2 separate regions of the Homo sapiens genome follow, and region 1 is linked to region 2. The links come from fine-mapping of genetic effects on gene expression. A gene starts in region 2. The other region holds a variant in brackets. All regions are shown on one strand. Distances are between the middles of the regions. Region 1 overlaps BCKDHA (branched chain keto acid dehydrogenase E1 subunit alpha). Region 2 holds the start of DMAC2 (distal membrane arm assembly component 2).

Region 1 (2,904 bases), 31 kb after region 2:
AGGCAGAGGCAGGCGAATCTCACTTGAGGTCAGGAGTTCGAGATCAATGTGGCCAACATGGCGAAACCCTGTACCCACTAAAAATAGAAAAATTAGCCGGATGTGGTGGCACATGCCTGTAGTCCCAGCTACTCAGGAGGCTGAGGCAAGAGAATCACTTGAACCCGGGAGGTGGGGGTTGCAGTGAGCCGAGATTGCGCCATAGCACTCTAGCCTGGTGACAGTGAGACTCCATCTCAAAAAAAAAAAAAAAAAAAAAAATCCCTTAGAGGGTGATATGGCAAAGTAACTTCCCCTCTCCACGTGTCCCCTTCCTTGTCTATAAAAATGGAGAACCCCTCATGGAAATGAGAGGCTTAAACAAGATCACATGAATAAAATGTTCAGCAAAGCATCTGTAAGCCACCTAACAAATGCTCAAAACAATCTTAGCAATTCTCATTTCTCCCTCTCATCTCTGCTTGCTTTACAAGAAGGTCTCTTTCCCTATCGCCTGGCAAACTGCTACATACGCTTCAGTGTCCACTCTACTCTGGTCCCAGCTCCCTCTGCGAGCCCAGACTGACTCATTCAACAAATATTTGAGCACCTGACATGTTCCAAGCCCTGTGCTGGGTTCTGGGGACCTAAGACAGGCAAGATATCTGTCCTTGCTGCCTAGCAGGGAGGGCAGACACTAAACAAGTAACAATGATGGTGGTTCATATTATCCTATAGCAGAAGAAAGCGAGGGTAAGGCTTCCCTGGGGAAGTGATGTTAGAGCTGAAACCTGAGGGATAACCAGGAGGCAGGGAAAGCACATTCTCGGCAAGGTGTATAGAACATGCAAAAGACAAAAAGTGGCCAGGCACAGTGGCTTATGCCTGTAATCCCAACACTTCGGGAGGCTGAGACCAGCCTGGCCAACATGGTGAAACCCCATGTCTACCAAAAATACAAAAATTAGCTGGGCGTGGTTGCGCACACCTGTAATCCCAGCTACTCAAGAGGCTGAGGCAGGAGAATCACTTGAATCCGGGAAGCGGAGGTTGCAATAAGCCCAGATTGCACCAACACATCCCAGCCTGGGCAACAGAGACCCTGCCACACACACAAAAAAAGACAAAAGGCAAGGAATAGTGTGTCCTTCATGGAAGACAGAAGGAGCTCAGGGCCTGGCAAGGTGGCTCATATCTGTAATCCCAACACTTTGGGCTCAAGGATTACTTGAGCCCAGGTGAGCCCAGGAGTTCAAGACCAGCCTGAGATCACATCTCTACAAAAAATTTTAAAAATTACTCAAGCATGGTAACATACACCTATAGTCCCAGCTACTTGGAAGGCTGAGGTGGGAGAATCGCTTGACCCCAGGAGGTGGAGGCTGCAGTAAGCCATGATCACACCACTGCACTCCAGCCTGGGCAACAGAGCAACATGCTGTCTCAAACAAAAAAAAAAGCTCAGAGGGGCTGGAGGAGTCCTGCAAGGACATCACACCTCCTCAGGTC[A/G]GATGAGGAATGGCTGAGAAAGCCCAGGAGACCTGTGAGAAGCCTATAAATGCTCAAAGGGATATGAACCCACTGGGACTCTTAGCTCTGGAGCTAGGCAGCCTAGAACCAGCCGAGGCGTTGCAATAGCTCCCCCTTATGAAGCACCTGCTGTAAGCCAGCTGAGCCTGGCAGGCACAAGCCTACTAACTCCTCGGGGAATTTGTGAGGTTGATTATCTGCCATTGCCCTTGAGTAGATGAGGAAACCGAGGCCTGGGGAGGTAAAATAACCTGCACCAAACCACAAATTTAAAAAAAAAAAAAAAAAGGTGGGGATGCTGGGCAGTGGCTTACGCCTGTAATCCTAGCACTTTGGAAGGCCAAGGCAGGAGGATCACATGAGCTCAGGAGTTTGAGACCAGCCTGGGCAACAGTGAGAAACCCTGTCTCCACAAAAAAATACAAACATTAGAAAGGCATGGTGACACATGCCTGTGGTCCCAGCTACTTGGGAGGCTGAGGCAGGAGGACTGCTTGAACCTGGAAGGATGAGGCTGTAGTGAGCTGAGACTGTGCCACTGCACTCCAGCCTGGGGGACAAAGTGAGACCCTGTCTCAAAAAAAAAAAAAAAAAAAAAAATTACATCAGAACTGGGCTTCCAACGCTGAGATTCAGGCTCCTAGACATCCATGCTCCTCACCCCAACTGCCCCTGCAGCCTGATTTTCAAACATCTGCAACTTTTCTTCCCACTACTCCCGGGATTCCTCCGAGGTCAGTAATGGTGGCTTCACTTCCCACAGATGTTAAAGAATGGCAGGGTTTGCCACAAGCTGGATCTCACACATGCGTGCTCAAATGTGTCCCTCCGTCTTCCTTTAACTGCAGTGAACAAGCTGTCCACAGTTCTAGCGGGGTAGCATGTTCAGTGTGTGTATTTATTTGCATTTGTAGTCGTGAGGAAATTACACTCCCAATGGCAGGGCAGATTCAGGCCTGGCAATGTCACTGCAGGCCTCCCCTTGTGAGGAGGAAACAGCCGGCCTCTTGCAGCACAGTGCTTCCCCCTTCTGAGTACCCAGCATAGCCAGACACTGACCTAGAAGATTGCTTTGTTTCGTGTCTGTCTCCCACACACACCACAATCCCAGGAAGGCAGAGACAGCGTCCAGGTTGCCTTCACAGCAGGCACTCAAGAGGGAATTCCTGAGTGAATGCATGAATGGGCTGTTAAGTTCCCTGGCTCTGGAGTTCAACTGCCCTGGGTTCTAATTTCTTAGCTCATTGTGTGGCTCTCTGCAAAAACACTTCACCTCTCTGAATTTCCTTATCTGTAAGAAGGCTGCAGAACACCACGTGAAAAGTTGCTAAGTTAACTCACACCAGGGGTTCAGCACCGATCTGGGACGTATTACATACTCAAAACTTGGTAAGA
Region 2 (2,904 bases):
TCCGCCTCCTGTCACATCAGCAGTGGCATTAGATTCTCATAGGAGGCAAACCCTATTGTGAACTGTGCGTGCGGGGGATCTAGGTTGCCTGCTCCTTATGAGAATCTAATGCCTGATGATCTCAGGTGGAACAGTTTCATCCCAAAACCATCCCCACCCCACCCCCGACCCCCAGTCTATGGAAAAATTGTCCTCCACGAAACCAGTCCCTGGTAACAAAACGGTTAGGGACCGCTGCTCTAAGGTACATTCTCCACCTGGCAGAAATAATCTTTACAAAATGTAAATCCGATTTTGACACTCCCTTCTTCCCACTGTGAATAGAATAAAACCCTACCAGGCCTGCACCGTCAGCCCCTGCCCACCTCTCAACCCAGTCTCCTATCTCTGTCTGCAAGCTGGTTCCCACCTCAAGGCCTCTCTGCTCTAGAGGCTACCTCTCCCTGCAGCGCTTTTCCCCTAGATCTTTGAATGGCTCTTTCCTTATCATTCACTTCTACTTCAATGTCACCTCTTCAGAGAGGCCTTTGCTGATGGCCCTACACCCAGTCACTTTTTTTTATCTGCTTCTCATCAAAATTGCCTTGCTGATTCCTTTGTTTCTTATTCATCCTCTCCCACATCCATCCTCTCCCAGCCCAGAATGTTGACTTCCTGAGAGAGGGACTGGGTCTGTCCTGCTCACCATGGTAACCTCGGCATCTAGAACAGTGCCTGCCATCACGTGGTAGGTGCTCAGTAAATATTCTTGGAACTAATGAATGAATAATTCTATCCACAAGACTTCACAATGGCTCTTCATGCTGCGATCTAGCTTTCAACTCCAAACTGGTCTTGAGATCTCACCTCAGTCTCTAACCTTGACATCTAACCTCTTCACCCACTCTCTTACCTGACCCTAATTTTTAAAAATGACGTGGTCAGCTTTTCAGCCCCCTCATTCCCTGTTTTTAGGAGGTAGTGAGTGGAAGCTGGAAGAATAAGAAAGCTTGGGGAGACTGCAATTGCAGTCAGGAAAGAAAGGTACTCTGCCGGGAAGAACACCCCATCTTCTCCTAGGGAAAGATTGTGGAGTCCTGGGGTTTGTTTTGTTTTTCAATTTTTTGTTTTAAGAGACAGCGTCTCGCTCTGTCACCCAGGCTGGAGTGCAGTGGCGCAATCACAGCTCACTGCAACTTCGACCTCCCCGGCTCAAGTGATCCCCCCGCCTCAGCCTCGTGAGTAGCTGGGACCACAGGCGTGCACCACCACGCCCGGCTAACATTTTATTTTTTGTGGATATAAGGTTGCCCTATTTCTTTGTGGAGATAAAGGCTCCCCTATGTTGCCCAGGCTGGTCTCGAACTCCTGGCTTCAAGCGATGCTTTCGCCTCGGCCTCCACAAAGTGCTGGGTTCACAGGTGCGTGAGCCCGACCTGTGTCTCGTTTTGAAGCTCAGGGAGAGGGCGCTGTGAGCAATCCCTAAACCCTTTAAGAGTAAAAAGTGCGTGCACCTTTAAGAGGACGGTTAGAAAACGCGGGGCGTGGCCACAGGAGAATAAGTTCGCGCTGAACCAGGAGCGTGGGATAAGACCGGCCCCTTCCGGTTACGAAACCTTAGCAAGATGGCGGCTCCCTGGGCGGTAAGTGACCGGAGTTCCTAGAGCCCCAAATTTGAAGTCCGCTCTACAGCCTCCGCATTCAGGGCCTCTGTTGGCGGCCACGAGAGCAGAAAGCCGTGAGGCAGCAGGCTAAGCCTGGCAAGCCCCGTACTGGGAGTGCAAACCTGTGGCTAGTGGGGGCCAGGAAGGATCTGTGAGGGTCGCAGGCGGAGGAGACGCTTTAGCGAGCGAGAGGAGGCAGGGACTTGGCTGAGAGTATCCAATGGGGATGAGGGAGTGGCTGCCGAAGAGCGACGCGACTAACCAATCAGAGGGAGGGATGACACAAGGAGCTAATGGACAGGCAAGGGTGGGGCCTGTAGGATAAGAGAGCTTGGAAGGGATTGTTCGAGGATGTGGGATTTGGTCTTAGAAGACCGAAGGATGAATGTAAGGAAAGTTAGTGGGAGATTGACGAATTTTTACAGAAAACTCAAAAGCATGATGGGTGGGGGAACCAAGAGGTCAATTTGGAGGTTCTAAGGGCATGATCTGGGTGAAATTAAGAGGAGAATTTGAGATATTCTTTCAGAGGATTTAAAATCAAGGAATGAATTTAGGGAAAATTAAAGAGGTTGGCAGCTTTAAACTTTTGAGGAAAATAAGGGTTTGGGTAAAATTATCGAGATAATTTGAAAAAAAAAAAGAATTTGGTTAAAGCAAAGAGAAATTGGGGTAGATTAAGAGGAGACCTTGAAAGCAAAATTGAAGAGTTTGGGGGCTTCTTCCCATTGGCCACACCCCTCGACTTTCTTACTCTCCTCTTCAAAGCTCATGCTTTTTATACCCTTCTCGGTTCAGGGGTGTCCAATCTTTTGGCTTCCCTGGGCCACGCTGTTCGAAGAAGAAGAATTGTCTTGGGCCACACATAAAATACACTAACCATAACTGATGAGCCAAAAAAAAAAAAAAAAAAATCACAAAAATATCCTCCTAATGTTTTAAGAAAGTTTGCATGTTTGTGTTGGGCTGCATGCAGGCGGCGGGTTGGACAAGCTTGGTTGGTTTTAGGGATTGCTCAGAGCACCCTCTCCTTGAGGTTTGGAGATAAGTTTTTAAGATTATATTCTGGGGAAAGAAAGAAGTCATTTGGGAAGACCCCAGCAGAAGAATTGGGTAATTAAGGGGCAAATCTGTGGAAAATTAAGAGGTCAAATAATGCAGGTTTTGAGTGATAAGGGTTTGGGGGAAAGTTAGAGGAAGAATTTAGGAAAATCAACAATATATGGCTAGTCGAGAAAATTTAGGGTTCACTAAGGGGAGG

The links. PIP is the estimated chance that this variant, and not a neighbour inherited with it, causes the effect.
Region 1: its variant is the best candidate, but not a certain one, in a credible set for the expression of DMAC2 in putamen (GTEx, PIP 0.52).

Annotation. Positions count from the first base shown.
Region 1 is chr19:41,407,156-41,410,059 of GRCh38, reverse strand. All of the region lies in intron 1 of BCKDHA (branched chain keto acid dehydrogenase E1 subunit alpha), which reads right to left. Among named protein-coding and RNA genes, the nearest start is that of BCKDHA, 11 kb to the right of the region's middle. RefSeq lists enhancers at 220-269, 1,579-2,534, 2,535-2,904. The variant A/G (reference allele first, on the strand shown) is at 1,489.
Region 2 is chr19:41,438,600-41,441,503 of GRCh38, reverse strand. It overlaps DMAC2 (distal membrane arm assembly component 2), which reads left to right and starts at 1,592. Exons shown (of 6, transcript NM_018035.3): 1 at 1,592-1,622. The coding sequence starts at 1,605. RefSeq lists an enhancer at 1,688-1,857.